Regions from separate parts of the Homo sapiens genome. Here region 2 is linked to region 1. A link means that fine-mapping ties the variant in region 1 to the expression of a gene that starts in the linked region. Tissue or cell type: visceral fat. Region 1 holds a variant in brackets; the other region holds the start of a gene. All regions are shown on one strand. Distances are from middle to middle.

Region 1 (8,101 bases):
CCACGGGCATCTATCAATCAGAGTTGGCATCTCCCACCTCTCAGCCCAACTGAGTCCTTAAAAGCTCATGGCAGGTGTGTGTGCGTCACAAGACAGATGCACAATGATCTGAGGGCTCAGAGACCATGAGGCTGGCTGTTTTGTGTGGGAGAAGCACAGACTTTCTCAAGTGTGAATTGGGCAGTAGCATTGGGTTGTGGACAGACACAGGGCTGGGGGTCACAGCCCCCAGCACTTCTGGTCCTTTCCTGACTGGCTGGCTGCCTGGCCCATTGGGGTCCTCACCTGGAATTTGAAGGAGCTGCGTTTCTTCCAGCTGCACAGTCCCACACCACCCAGCCAAGTTGTGTTTGCTCTGAGGCTTTGCTATTTAAGGACATCCTAGAGATAGGTGATGATGGAGATGGATGTTTGAGCAGAAATAGTGCAGGAGACTAGGAGCATGTCTAGAGGTGACAAGTCAGGGATCAGACTGTGGGCCATAGATGGGGCAGCTCTGCCCAGGAGTTTGATGGGAACAGAGTTTCATTTTGGGAGGAAGAAAAGAGTCCTGTGGGTAGATGGTGGTGATGGAAGCAGAACAAGGGGAATATATTTAATACCACTGAACTGCATGTGTAGAAAAGTTAAGATGGTAAGTTTGTGTTAGATATGTACTGTTACCATCTGTATAAACACACGATTTTTGACACTGCCATTCCCTGCCGTGCAGAGCCCCTGTGGTGAATCTCCTGATTTCTCCAAGTGTGGGTCACTTGCTGTCCCCTGTGCTGTGTCCCATGTGCTGTGCCCACAGCCTCATATAGCTGGTGACATCAGAGCCAGGACGCAGCTCAGGAGTCTGCCCTGAGGCTCCCTCTCTTTCCATTTTCCTGCAGCCTGACTGGGACGAAGGGAAGCTTTGGTGTTGATTGGCAGCTTGATTTAGCCGAATTCAGGACAGACCACCCGGGCTCCTTCTCCACACACCTCGTTCCCACCTAGGTGGAGTCAGGCAAGGCCAGTCACCCAGGGGAGCCCAGAGCAGAGCAGGGAGCAGTCTGAGCTGTGTCTCCCTCACCCAAGGGGCTTCCTTCTCTCATTTGGGAAAAAAGTATGAGCTTGTTTCAAAGCCTTGAATGTTGCTTGTAGCTCATGGAGTAGGCAAAAGAACACAAAGAGGTGACAGAAAGGGACACATTGGTGACAGAGAGAAGCAACTTGACCTTGAGAACCCTTGCTCCTTCCCGCTCTGTGAAGCTTCCTCCACTACACAGGGCTGTGGGGCTGAGGGAGCCTCCTCCCCACATTCCAAGCTGGACCTGGGGCCCGCCATGAGAAATCAGAACAAGAAGAAAAGAGTCTGTAGAGACATATTGGGGAGGTTCAGTGGGAGAATCTGGGATTTGCTTGTGCCCACTGGACACAGGCTGGGATAGAAAATGTCTTCCTGGCTCTTGTTTGAAAACCAGACAGACTCCACCTCAAAACATGATGTCAGTGCTTCGTGGATCCACTTACCATAGACTGTGATCGTCGTGACTGTGGTCCTATTGAGGCCAGTGTCTGAGTTATGGGCTTGGCACGTATAGGATCCACTATTATTCACAGTGATGTTGGGGATAAAGAGCTCTTGGGTGGATTGCTGGAAAGTCCCATTGACAAACCAAGAGTACTGTGCAGGTGGGTTAGAGGCTGCGTGGCAGGAGAGGTTCAGATTTTCCCCTGATCTGTAAGATGTGTTTAGAGGGGAAATGGTGGGGGCATCCGGGCCATCTGGAGCAAACAAAATAAAGCCACAGGTGATATTGTCAGAGGGAAGTGGAAGTTCCTGGTCTATGGAAGGACCACAGTGTCCCTCTAAGCTGAATCACAATCCTAAAGTCTCAGCCAAACCCCTCTTGTATCTACTGAGCCTGAGTCTGAGATATTCACCTGTTTCTCCCATCATAGGGTGTGGACCCTGAGCCTCCCAGGACAGAAGCAGCCCCTCCCCTCCTATTCTTGGTCAAGACTTGGTCTGCCCAGGTTTTTCTGGGGCAGAAAGTCACAGACAGTCTGGATGTCCAGGGTTGAGGGTCTGTGTACTTGAACCTGAGAGGGACTGAGAAATCCTGCCTCTGGCCCTGTGGATTTGGGCTGGCAGCCTGGGCCAGAGAGGAGCAGATATACTCACAGAGGACATTCAGGATGACTGAATCACTGCGCCTGGCACTCACTGGGTTCTGGGTTTCACATTTGTAGCTTGCTGTGTCATTTCTTGTGACATTGAATAGAGTGAGGGTCCTGTTGCCATTGGACAGCTGCAGCCTGGGACTGACCGGGAGGCTCTGATTGTTTACCCACCACAGGTAGGTTGCGTCCTGAGTCTCAGGTTCACAGGTGAAGGCCACAGCATCCTTGTCCTCCACGGGTTTGGAGTTGTTGCTGGAGATGGAGGGCTTGGGCAGCTCCGCTGTGCAGATAACAGAGAGAAGATTGCCCTGTGTGGCACCTTTGATTCCTCACAGGCATCTTTCAATCAGAGTTGGCACCTTCCACCTCTCAGCCCACCTGAGCCCTTAAAAACCCACGGTGGGTGCATGTGTCACAAGACAGATGCACGATGATCTGAGATCTCAGAGACTGCGAGGCTGCCTGCTCGGTGTGGGGGAAGCACAGACTTTCTCAAGTGTGAATTAAGCAGCAGCATTGGGCTGTGAACAGACACAGGACTGGGGGGGAGGTCACAGCTCCTGGTGCCTCTCCTGGTCCCTCCCTGACCAGTTGACTACTTGGCCCACTGTAGGGTCCTCACCTGGAACATTCAAGTGCTGGGTCCCTTCCACCTTCAGTCCTACTTTGTTTCCCTAGGTATATTTTTTCTGTGGTTTCCCTTTGCAAGGACATCCTAGAAATGGATAGTGATGGGTCTTCCCATTGTCCTTAAACCCTGTACATATTGTGCAGCCTGGCCTGGGACTGGATGTTTCAGTAGAAATAACACAGGGGACACCAGAGGCAAGCCTGGAGGTCAGCTCAGTCGTTAGGCAGTGGAGGCACAAGGTGGGGCAGTTTTTCCCAGGTGTTTGATGATGACTGACTTGAGCCAGAGACCCCTAAAGATAGAGTGGAGTCCAGGGAATGATCTAGAACTTCAGGTGACAGGCAGGAGCTGCCCGGATTTAACAGCAGAACCATATGTATGTTCTTTGTCTTTGGTCTTTGTTTGTTTGTTTGTTTTTTGAGATGGAGTCTTGCTGTGTTGGCCAGGCACGATCTCGGCTCATGGCAACCTCTGCCTCCCGGGTTCAAGCGATTCTCCTGTCTCAGCCTCCCGAGTAGCTGGGACTACAGGCGCCCACCACCACACCCAGCTAAATTTTGTATTTTTAGTAGAGATGGGGTTTCACCATATTGGTCAGGCTGGTCTTGAACTTCTGACCTCAGGTGTTCTGCCCACCTTGGCCTCCCAAAGTGCTGGGATTACAAGCATGAGCCACTGCACCCGGCCTGTCTTTGGTCTTTAATGTCCCTTCTCCCCTTGCAGAGGGCAGGCGAGGATGCTGTGGATCTCTCCATAAATACATGTGGACATTTGCAAATGCAGAACTGACTGGTGGAAAAGGGGGAGCATGAACTGCTGGAAATCTGGCCCTCAAGGACCATGTGTGTTTGACAGTTATGAGACAGAACTTTGAGAAGAAGTTTTGCAATTATTTTCTCCCATTGGACATTATGCTAAATGAAATAAGCCACTCACAGGGCAGATACTGTAGGATTCCACTTATATGAAGTCCCTAGAGTAGTCACACTTGTGGAATCAGAGAGTAGAATGGTGGTTGTCAAAGCCTGGGAACTGGGGGAATGGAGAGTTGTTCATGGGTCTGCAGTTTCAGTTATGCAGGATGAGGAGGTTCTAGGGATCTGCTGTTCAGCTTGGTGCCTATAGTTCATACAGATTGAGTATGTCTTATGTGTAAGGCTTAGGACTAAAAGTGTTTTGGATTTCTGACTGTTTTTGAGTTTTGAATATTTGCAATATACTTACCAGTTTAGCACCCCAAATCTGAAAATACGGAATCCAAAGTGCTCCAGTGAGCCTTTCTTTTTTCTTTTCTTTTCTTTCTTTTTCTTTTTTTTGAGATGGAGTCTCGCTCTGTTGCCAGGCTGGAGTGCAGTGGCACGATCTCAGCTCACTGCAACCTCCACCTCCCGGGTTCAAGCGATTCTCCTGCCTCAGCCTCCAAAGTAGCTGAGACTGTAGGTGCATGCCACCACGCCCAGCTAATTTTTGTATTTTTAGTAGAGACGGGGTTTCACCATGTTGGCCAGGATGGTCTTGATCTCTTGACTTTGTGATCTTCCCGCCTTGGCCTCCCGAAGTGCTGGGATTACAGGCATGAGCCACCGTGCCCGGCCTTCAGTGAGCATTTCTTTTGAGAATCATGTCAGTGGTCAAAAAATGTTGGATTTTGGAGCATTTCAGATTTTGGATTTTAGGATTTGGGATACTCAATCTGTAGTACTATAATTTGCCCTTAAAAATTTGTCAGGAGTTTAGATCTCA[T/C]GTTATTTTCTGACTATAGTTAAAAAAGTGAAAGACATTTGGGGGAAACATTAAATTTTTTCCATAAGTGGAAATTCTTATCAATGGCCTAAAGATCTAAGATCAATTGCTGGAAGTAGTACTTCTTTTAATATTATGCTAAGGTTTAGGTCTGCTCTGAATTCCAAAGTGATCACATTATGCTCAAAGGAAGATGCTGAAAGTGGTTTGAAATCAGTGACTCCCTGAACAGAGAGAGGGATGTGAGACCTGTTAAGAGGACAGAACCGGTCAGAGAGGAACTCTTAGGTGTGTCAATTACATAAAGGGAGAAATGATGCCAAGTTAGGAGAAGCAATGTGTGTGATGTTAGTAAATTTAGAAAGCGCTCCCTGCCCCTAGTTCCTGTGCAGAGTTAGGCAAAAAGAGGAGAAGCCTCAAAACAGGCATGTGAAAGGTTTTCTTCCTCTCCTATCAACCTCAGAAAACACAACTAGAGTTTAAGTTTTTGTAACTGGGTAGAGTCTAAGTGAGACGCCAGTGGCTGGTTCACTTCTCAGTCCAAGGGACTCCACCTTATGACAATGGCATCATCATGAGGACACAGGTGTATGTGGAATGGGCAGCAAACCTATCAGACAGCACCTGCCTGGCCAGCTCCACCTGGGGGAGGTCCCAGGATCCACTGGAGGATGTGAGCCCCACACCAGGATGAAGATGGAGTGGGTAGTGAAGTGAGTGAAATAAGCATGCGGGCTTTGGGGACTGCAGACCTGTCCTTCTGCCTCTGACCCCCTGGTGAGTCAGTGTAGGGAGTGGATGGAGGAGTCGCTCATTCCCGTCCTGCTGCCTGTTCCGTGTGTTGGCCTCATGGAAGTAAAGAGCCCTGGGCAGGAACACAGCGGAAGCTCATTCTCCTGGTGACCTGTTGACATTGGCTTGTGATGGAGCCTGGCAGGGGCTCCATCTGTGCCTTCCCTATTGCCTGTGATTTCTGTGCCTTCCCTATTGCCTGGGAAGTGGGCCAGGACACAGTGTGAGCGGCAAGAAAACAGGACAGCCAGCCTTGTTCAAGGGAGTGTCTGGGGAAGGCCTAAGAGTGGAGGAAGATGTTCAGGGATGGGCATCTCAGCTGGAATGAAGAGGGAGGAAGACGAAGAACATGGAGGAATAGAAGAAAGTCAGAAATGCCCATGGCAATGAGCCATGCGGGGTATAGTGACCTCGGAGACCCCAGGACTAGGAGTCCCTTGGCTGTCCCGACCAGGACCAGGGAGCCTTGAAAACCCTCCCATGGCCAAGGAACCCCAGAGTCACATGAGATAGGGTGGCTTTCGGGACAGGGGGTCAGAGGAATGGTACATGGATCTCAGCCCCTGATGGACACGGAACAGGTGTGGTCAGAACCTCCCAGGATTCTGCATCCAGGATCCAGTCTCTATAGAGGTTATGGATCATTCCTTCACTCATTCCCCCCTTCATGAGAGAGCTACTGAGCAAGCGTGTGTCTCACTTTGGGCCTCTGTTGGCACAGGGTGTGAGTGGGGAGAGAAAGCGAAGTCCTTTCCTTTATCCTTCCGTGGGAGTGACACTGACACATCGGGAAACACAGGATTTGAGGTCATGTGAGGGGGCTGTGGATCTCAGGGAGAGGCCTGGACAATCCCGGCACTGACCCTGACTGTTGAGGTGATCTAGTTCTAGAGTAAAACTGATTATTTCTCCATTTACTTATCACTCTCCAGACCAGAATCTCCGCTTCTGAGCTGTGGATGCCCAAGACAAAAGAACGCAAGCCCATGACTGGTCTCAGATGCAGATGCCTAACAACAAACAGCCCCACCCACCCCCAGTTGAGGAGAGGAGGGGGCTGTGGCTACAGACAGACCTCATGTGACTTCAATCTGACACCTATGGCCTGTGTGACCCTTGTTAGTGACTGTCTCCCTGTGCCTCAATTTCCTTTCAATAAGTAGGATAAGTGCTATTTGGCTGTGAGGTTGTTTGTGAATTAACCTCAAAATATTTACAATTACTTGATCTCAGCTCTGCACAGAGGAGCTGCTCAAATGAACATCATTTATGTTTATTTGCCTCCAAGAGAGAAGGCCCTGGGCCTGATCCCTGGTGGACAAGGAGCTGCCGGGAGCATCTTCTCTCCTCTGTTCCTCTTCCTGGGGACACTGAGCTTCCCATGGAGTCACCTATGTCCCCAGGGCAATGGACTGACACCCTAATAACCTTGTCTATCTATCCTCCCCACATTGAGTCTCAAGTAAAGGACAAGGCTCTGTCCTTGTCCAAATGAGACTCTGGGGACAGGGAACAAGTGTGGCCAGAAAGTCCGATTCTGCATCCAGAATCCAGCTCCAGGAGCCACAGCCCTTGGACAGCTGCTAAGTCCTTGCTTCCAGTTAGCCTTGCCCAGGAGGCCACAACACAGCCCTGGCACAGGCTCCCCTGAGTCACCTGGAACCAGGAGCCCTGGGGCTGAGCTTCTCTGTGAATATCCCAGGGGTCCCTCAGGCCAGGCTCTGATGCAGTTCTCCAGGGTCTTTCTCAGGGTCAGGTTTACGGGGAGGGCACGGGGTGCTTGGCTGAGACTGACCTCCCCCTGCTAAGTCCCCCACATCAGACTGTCCTTCCTCTGCAGTGAGTGTCTGCAGGGTCTGGATGCCGGAAAGGAATTCTGATCTGTTGAAGTTTGTCTCTTCTGTGTGTATCCTGCACTAAATGCCCAAACCCTAACATGGTGCGTAATGCAGAGGGGGCCACAGGCACAGCCCAGGCCTGATAATCCTGTGTGTGGGAAGTAGAACTGACCCCCAACACCCAGAGGTCATGGGGGAATCACTCACGGTATACCCGGAACTGGCCAGTTGCTTCTTCATTCACAAGATCTGACTTTATGACGTGTAGGGTGTAGAATCCTGTGTCATTCTGGATGATGTTCTGGATCAGCAGGGATGCATTGGGGTATATTATCTCTCGACCACTGTATGCGGGCCCTGGGGTAGCTTGTTGAGTTCCTATTACATATCCTATAATTTGACGGTTGCCATCCACTCTTTCACCTTTGTACCAGCTGTAGCCAAAAAGATGCTGGGGCAGATTGTGGACAAGTAGAAGCACCTCCTTCCCCTCTGCGACATTGAACGGCGTGGATTCAATAGTGAGCTTGGCAGTGGTGGGCGGGTTCCAGAAGGTTAGAAGTGAGGCTAGGAGAGAGCAGAGAGCATCGGTCAATATTGGGACCTATGCATTAGGGTGGAAAAATGGGGTCCTGGGTCCTGAGCAGGTCTCTTCATCCCCCAGCCCTGGAGTGAGTGAGTGTGTGTGTGTGTGTGTGTGTGTGTGTGTCCTACTAGGTCAAGGTCAGCAGTGTGTCTCCTATTTCCTTAGCACCTCTGACCTTGGCATTTCCCTGTGTGGAATCTGCTTTTCCAGGGGTCTTCACGGCTCCCTCCCCATTGCCTTCAGGTCCTGCTCACATCAGGGCATTCTTGGGAGATCCCTTCCCTGACACCTCCTCTAGAGACCCTGGGTCTTCCTTTTCTGACCTTTCCCTGCTCTATTCCCTCCAGGGCTCTTGTC
Region 2 (8,101 bases), 180 kb after region 1:
GTGTTCCTCCGCTGATGTGCTCCTCTCGACGTCAAGCCTCCTGTGTGTCTGACTGCTAGGGTCTTGGGGTTTTTATAAGCACAGGATGGGTCTTAGCAGGCCAGGATGATCTTGGGAAAGACAACATTCGGTCAGGAAAACAAAAATGCCTGTTGTCATCTAGGTCCGTGGGGACAAGCCCAGGTGTGGAGCTTTTAGCCAGGGACCACAGCCTCCTGTATCCAACACTTCCCTTCACCTTTTCTATATCATTCAAAGGGATCATGCCCTTCCCATCCCAGCACTTCACTTTCATGTCATTTGCCCCCTCTGAAGAGGTACATCTAACTGCCATTAGAATATGGATGATGACCAGTCTTAGCTGCTTCCTGCTGAAAGGGGGCATTGTTTTGGGGGAAAACGGCAGTCAGATTCCTCCCAGGGGTCTCTATAATAAAAGATCGAGGTGGCTACTTTCAGGAGGTCCTCTAATGTACTATCTGGTCCCAAGTCCCATTTCTGCAACCTCCTCCTGATGTCAGGAGCTGCCTGAGTAATAATTTTATCCTTTAGGATTATCTGTCCCTCGATTGAATTAGGAGATAGAGAGGTGTGATTTACCAAGGCCTCTCTTAGCCTCTCCAGGAAGGCAGTGGGATTTTCATCAAATCCCTGGTTAATTATGGACAACTTAGTATAATTGAGAGGCTTGGTCTTAGACCTACGTAAGCCCTCTATTATGCACACCTGAAAGTGTCTCCTCTTCCAGTCTTCCATCTCATTATTGGGATCCCATTTAGGGTCCTTCACTGGTGCTACTTCTCTTCCAGTTGGATAATATTCGCTCCCTTCCCTGATGCTATAGGTGATGCAAAGCTCATCCCCAAATCTCTCTGCTGCTGGCAGAGCAGCCTGCTTCTCAGTGTCTATCAGGTTCTGACTCAAAAGTAACATAACGTCTCTCCAGGAGAGTTCAAATGTTAGGGTGAAATTCTGGAAAGCTTCTATATATCTATCAGGGTCATCTGAACACTTGCCCAGATCTCCCTTAATTTGCTTTAAGTCTTGTAGGGAAAAGAGGACTTGGACCTTACTGGGCCCAAATTCACTGGGCATCTGTAGGAGGGGCAAGAGTGAGACTGGGCTTGTTTGGGATGAAGATTTCTAGGAGGGGCCAGGTGAGAGGCTGAAGCTGGATACGGAGGTTGGGGTGGACCCAGAGGAGCAGGGCTTGAGGGAGCTGGCACGTCAGCTGGGGGTGCGTCTGGGACTCGTGTCTTTAATTCCCTGGGCTTGACCCTGGCAGCCTTCCCCGAGACAGCAAACAGGAGGGCTGGAACAATCCTACATGTCAGCAAAGGTCTGGATTGCTTTGCAAGGTATAGAAAGCCTGCACATTTGGGGCCTCAGACCATGTGTCCTCACATCCAGAGAAAAGTTCTAATTGCAGGATGGTATTGAAATGAATGGTCCCTTCCTGAAGCCAAGCCAGTCCTTCCTGTAAACCATAATTTGGCCAAACCTATGTGCGGAGGGCTATGAGATGCTTTTCCTCTGGATTCTGAGGGTCAAAACAGTCCCAATGGTTCAGGATACACTCAAGGGGAGTACAAGCTGGGGGTGGTGAGGAGAACTGGCTGCCCATTCTGAAAGACAGGGAATAGAGGTGTTCCTCATTTCCCTTCCTTCTTTTGGCAAAAAGCTCAGGGTGTGATGGGGAGGGAAAGCAAGCATCTTCACTTCACTTTCCACCTCTTACCCCTGCGCCCTGGCAACCTTGGCAGGTGCCGGCCACAGGTACAAATGCGGTATGTACCCATGAAGCAGGGAGAACCTGGAGATTAGGAATTAACTGCCCTCACCTATGTTTCCTTTTCTCCCTGCTGTTGAAAAACTTTGAGTTCCCTGGGCCTTTTTATCCCATGAGGCATGGCCTCCTTCTGTGGGATGGGGTTCAGTCAGCAGGAATTGGTCCTGTCCATTTACATTGTGCCTGTTGCCTGGCTTTGAATTCCTCAGACCTGCTTTCTCTTTCTAGGGCCTCAGCCTGAAGCTTGGAATTGAGTTTGGGACTGAAAAAGCATTTCAGAGGCTGTTTATATCCATTTAGTGCCTCAAATAAGCCCTGCTGAATTTGCAATTATCAGCCAGCAGGGGTCACTCCTCTGTTAACTTCCCTATTAGAAACAGAGCGGTGGGGATTCTCACTTAGAAAAGAAAAAAAGAGAAAAACAGTTAAAGAGGCAAAAAGTGGGGAATGCTGGGGGAAGAACCCCTTGCTTAGTGCAAGTGGGCCCCTCTAATCCTTATAACTTTCCCATCCTTCCCCCAGTTCAGACCAGGTTGAATTCCTTGGCCATGGAAGGAAAGGTTCCATTGATGCAGTGGGTGAGAAGCACTCTGTAGGGTCCTGGCTACCATCGGTTTTCTCACACCCCCCTCATCCCAGGCAGTGGAGGGAGACACTTCTGCGACATTGCTCCCCCTGCCCCTTCATGGCTATTGGGTGTGGCCTTTGCCTGCTGCAGGCATGCCTAGGTGCTGGAGCTGGGAGGGAAAAGGGTAAGGAGAGGTGCCCTGGAAGCCGCTCATGCCTGGGGCTGTCAAGGTGGAGGCATACATGGCACCTCTAGGAAAAATTGGTCTGATTTGCACCTTTGGCGGCTGAGCCAAATGCTCATTTTACTTAGTAACATTGCCTCAGCCTGTAGCAAAACTCTTAACATTATAAAGGAAGAGATAAGATCCATTTCAAATAATGTGTGAGAGAGAAAAGAGATGAAAGGAAAACAGAGTCTTTTACCTGCAGGAAAGGGAGAGAAGTGGCAGAGTTTTGGAAGAAAGGCAGGCCCAACAGTTTCCCATTCACTCACACTCACCTTCCGAGATCCCAGACGAGCCACCAGTTGAAATGGGAAAAGTTTCCTTGTCCCCCTCACAGGAGGTGGAGTGGGGGTGTGGCTTGCTTCTTTAGTACTCCGCTGCTCAAACCTCTAGGGAAGCATACAGACTGGCAAGTTGTGGGGCTACAACCCCATGGCAGCATCTAGGGGTAGATGTTTACAGCTGCTGAAGCCCCAGTGGACATGTGGTACCATGTGCTCTTTTAGTTTTGCCATCTATAGGTGGCTTTGTGGTAACCAGCTCAATTAGACCCATTCCTTAACCCAAAGACAGAGGGCTTTCTGTATCCCGCGGTTGTTACCTAGGTGTACCAGAAAAATCAAATCACACGTGGTCTTGGAGAATGAGTGCAAGGTTTTATTGAGTGGAAGTAGCTCTCAGCAGATGGGGGAGCCAAAAGGGAGAATAGTTTTCCCCTGAAGTCGGGTTATTCAGCGGCCCAGGCTCTCCTCTGGCTGCCCCAGCCAAACTCTATGTCAATCCATTGGTCGGTGGCCTGCCAGAGTGCTGGTGCCTGTTGGTGGATTCCTCTCAGCGTCGAGAGTTTTTCCCTCTCAGGAAAGGGAGAGAAGTGGCAGCCACCCATGTGTTCTTGCACTGATGTGCTCCTCTCGACGTCCAACCTCCTGTGTGTCTGCCTGCTAGGGTCCCAGGGTTTTTTTAGGCACAGGATAGGGCATGGTGGGCCAGGGTGATCTTGGGAAATGCAACATTTGGTCAGGAAAACAAAAATGCCTGTCCTCATCTAGGTCCAGGGGCACAAGCCCAGGTTTGGAGCCCTAGCCAGGGACCCCGGCCTCCTCTACCCATCACTTTCCTTCACCTTTTCTGTATCATTCAAAGGGACCATGCCCTTCCCTTCCCAGCACTTCTCTTCTGTATCAATAGGTGATGTTTTTAAAATTTCCCAACTCTAGTGCAGGCATGGTACTAGACATATACATAGAAATAAAACCACACTTATTCTTCTGGCTGGCAAGACATAGTATTTTTGCCAAATTATGTGTTGTTTTGAAGCATTTTATGTACCCCTGGTCATATAAAAATAAAGCTATTTTGTTCAGTACAAACAGCAGCATTTTCTGGATTAGAAAGTTAATCATCTTAAAAGATCATCACGGATTTTTCCATTGCACTCATCACTAATTGCTTTGGCAAAAAATTTCTTATCTCACGCATGACAAAATCAGCCGCAGTATCTCCTAGTAATTTAATGGTGATGATCTTTATAAAGGAAATAAGCACATCAAGGGAAAACATAATTTTTTTAAAAAAAAGAGTAATAAAACTTTTTAAAAGTCTTTTTTAAAAGACTGCTTTTCTAAAATAGTAAAATAAAACTCCACCAATAAAACCACCAACAAAACAGAAAAGAAAAAATAATGATATGATCGGAGCTATTTGATGAAAGATGGTAAATTAAATTTAAAATGATTAGAAGAGAAAAAGCAATACCTGTCTCCCGTAGGTCTCAGTCCAGGTTCTGCTATGCCTTTCTCCTGGTGAGCCACCTATTTAAGAGTCGCTTAAAGCATATGTTAATCCAACAACAGCAGATTAAAAACCAATGCAATCTGAACTATTTGATCTAAAAACATAAATAAAATTTAAAACAAATAAAAGAGAAAAAGCAGTACCTGTGTCCTGTAGGTCTCAGTCCAAGATCTGCTCTGACTCCCTTGTGGTGAGTTAGCCCTTTAGAAGTCACTTGGGGTGGGGCATATGTTAATTCCACTAACATTGGTTCTGGCCAATGAGTCAGGAAGGTGGTAAATGGCACCTTTTCTTCTTGCTGATTTCTTTCAGTTCCTTTGGAGTCTGGACATTAGTCCTTTGTCAGATGCCTAGTTTGTGACTACTGTTTCCTATACTGTGGGTTGTGTGTTTACCCTGCTGATATTTCTTCTGCCTTGCAGAAGATTTTCGGTTTCATTAGGTCCTATTGATCTTATTCTATTTTTATATTTTTGCGTTTGCTTTTGGGGCATTAGTCATGACTACTTGGCCTAAGCCAATGTCTAGAAAAGCTTTTTGGATGCTATCTTGTAGCATTTTTAGACTTTCAGGTCTTAGATGGAAGTTTTTATATGCTTTGTTAAAGATCAGGTGACTGAAAGTACCGGGCTTTGTTTCTCGGTTCTCTATTCTGTTCCATTGCTCTATGTGCCTATTTTTATACTTCCTGCACCATTTATTGAATAAAGTGTCCTTTCCCCAATTAGTGTTTTTGCATACTTTGTTGAAGATTAGTTGTCTGTAAGCATTTGGCTTTATTTCTGGGTTCTCTATTCTGTTCCATTGCTCTATGTGCCTATTTTTATACTTCCTGCACCATTTATTGAATAAAGTATCCTTTCCCCAATTAATGTTTTTGTGTACTTTGTTGAAGATTAGTTGTCTGTAAGCATTTGGCTTTATTTCTGGGTTCTCTATTCTGTTCTATTGCTCTATGTGCATATTTTATACCAGTATCATGCTATTTTGGTGATTGTAGCCTTGTAGTATAATTTAAAGCCTGCCTTCAGATTTGTTCTTTTTGCAAAGTATTGCTTTGGATATGCGGTCACGTTTTTGGTTTTGTATAAATTTTAGGATTCTTTTTTCTAGTTCTGGGAAGGAGAATGATGATATTTTGATGAGAATTCTACTGCTCTGTAGATGGCTTTGGAGAGTATGGTCACTTTCACAATATTGATTCTACCTATTCATAAGCTTATAATGTGTTCCCATTTGTTTGTGTCAACTGTGATTTCTTTCAGCACTATTTTGTAGTTTTCCTTGTAGGAAACTTACATTAACCTACTTGGTTAAGTATATTTCTAAGTATTTTACTTATTAAAAATTCTCAGGGAAATGCAAAGTAAAACTGAGGTGGGAAATTAAAGAAAAATAAAATTAAAAAGAAAGGGAAATAAGCTTTCTTGTATTAAGCTAACTTGTCCCAGAGGCAGCAACAGGCACAGCCCAGACCCAGGAAAAGTCTTGATAATATTATTTATTGTATTCTGGAGACTCTTCCAGCACTCCTTCAATGTAGGGAGAAGAAAAACAAATTTTCCTTTGTTTTATGGTATGAGTTTATAGATTCTTGTTCTCTTTAACTAGTAACTTCAAGTATTCTGTTTTATCTAAGAAGTATGGCAAAGGTCATGAGAAGCCTGAGCAGGCCTGAACTACAGCTCTCTAGGCACCATAGTGAAGATAAACCAATGCAAGCCTCTTTAGAGCAAAACCTAGATAATAGACATCTGGGTTGCATAGCAACAGTTATGTGCAATCCTGAGTTATGAACCTGTTACAATTTGATTAACTGTCTTTTTCCTGCCTCTGTATCCCTGCTTTCACACCACTGTAAGCTTGCTTCAAGCTGGCCCACCCCCTTTTGTGAAGTGTGTATAAAAGTCAAGTGCTGTCTTTGTTCCAGGCCCTGTCTTTGGACGTGAGTCTGCTGGGCCTGAGAGCACTCAATAAAAGATTCTCCTGTTTTAACCCAAAGCCTCTCTCTCATCCTCCTAAATCCCACAACAAAACCACAATGAGATGCTATCTTAATCTTGCTAGAAGCCCATAATTTAAAAGTCAGAAAACAATAGATGTTGGCATAGATGTGGTCAAAAGGGAGCACTTTGACACTGCTAGTGGGAATTTAAACTAGTCCGACCACTATGGTAAACAGTATGGGGATTCCTTAAAGAACTAAAAGTAGACCATTCATTCCAGCAATCCCATTACTGGCTATCTACCCAAAGGAAAAGAAGTTATTCCATAAAAAAGACACAAGAATATGGATGTTTATAGCAGCCGATTCGCAATTGCAGTGATATGGGACCAACTTAAGTGCCCATCAACGAACGAGTGGATAAAGCAAATGTGGTACACCATGGAATAATACTTGATAATAAAAAGGAACAAAATAATGTCCTTTGCAACAAGTTGGATGGAACTGGAAGCCATTATTCTAAGTGAAGTAACTGAGGAATGGCAAATCAAATATTGAATGTTTTCACTTTTAAATGAGAGTTAAGCTATGAGAATGCAAAGGCATAAGAATGATATAATGGACTTGGGGACTCGGGGAAAGGTTGGGAGGGGGATGAGGAATAAATGATGACATATTGGGTATATTATACACTGCTCAGGAGACAGATGCCTCAAAATCTCAGAAATTACCACTAAGGAACTTTTATCCACATAACCAAAAACCACATATATTCCACACACTATTGAAAGAAACATAAACATTATTTTAAAAAATAAAGCCACTTTTAAAATTAGCAAAATAAAATAAATATGTCTTCAGAGTTTAGATATTGGATCCAAATTAGACAGATCAAATACTGCCTTTACTAAATATTTTCATGTCATTAACAACTTCTAAAACCTTTCAAACAGTTTTTTGACATGTCTTGGAACCATCCATTTCTAGCTAAGGCCTGGGCACCTGTGAAATAGGGCCATGCCCCCCCTTATACTGGGAAGAGTAAGATATTTCAAGACTAAGATGTTTTCTACAGCTCCATCTTTTTCTTTAAGCTCTACATCAAGGACATAATTAAAATTGGTTGTCTCCTAAGTGGTTTACTAAAAATGCATACTTAAGAGTTACCATTATAATTAATATTTGTATCTAAAGCTACTTAAAAATTTTCACACACAAATCTGACTGAACAAGTAAAATATATTTTAAGTCAAAGTTTATAAAAGGACATGAGAACATAGCTTTTATGAAAAAATTAGTTTTGTCAAGTTTAGAGGTTTTCAAATATTTTAAATTCAGGAAATAAAATAACAAAAAGACAAAAGAAAATGGTTGAACAACTTAGAAAAGGTTTGTTAAAATTCATCTTATAAAACAATCTACATGTAAAAAGTGGGCTAAAATTTGAAAGAGATTATTTAGGTTTTCCATAAATTAATCCAGAAGGGGTAGGAAGTCTTAAGAATGAGGAAGGACAGGAGGAAGGGGAGGTCATCCTGACACTGCAGAGGCAGAAGTGCAGCTGAAGGTATGAAGGCTAAGAGGGGAGGGGAGTTTGAGTGCTGCTGCCTGGCTGTCAGAGCAGAGGAGGGTCCTGGGCACCAGACTTGAGGAAGGGATGAAAATGCTGGGCAGACCTGTAGTGGGCCCTTGAGATGGCAGATAGTGGTTTCCAGAGAGAGGGCCATTGTTTTCCAGTGCCCAGCACTGAGCAGAGAGAGTTTTGGGCAGTGTAAAAAA

Evidence for each region. PIP is the estimated chance that this variant, and not a neighbour inherited with it, causes the effect.
Region 2: LINC01480 starts here. The variant in region 1 is fine-mapped to the expression of LINC01480 in visceral fat (GTEx, PIP 0.98).

The regions. Positions count from the first base shown.
Region 1 is chr19:41,709,304-41,717,404 of GRCh38, reverse strand. It overlaps CEACAM5 (CEA cell adhesion molecule 5), which reads right to left. Exons shown (of 10, transcript NM_004363.6): 2 at 7,366-7,725; 3 at 2,156-2,434; 4 at 1,501-1,755. Among named protein-coding and RNA genes, the nearest start is that of CEACAM5, 4.7 kb to the right of the region's middle. The variant T/C (reference allele first, on the strand shown) is at 4,529.
Region 2 is chr19:41,532,021-41,540,121 of GRCh38, reverse strand. It overlaps LINC01480 (long intergenic non-protein coding RNA 1480), which reads right to left and starts at 4,624. Exons shown (of 3, transcript NR_110724.1): 1 at 4,521-4,624; 2 at 4,339-4,408; 3 at 3,218-3,521.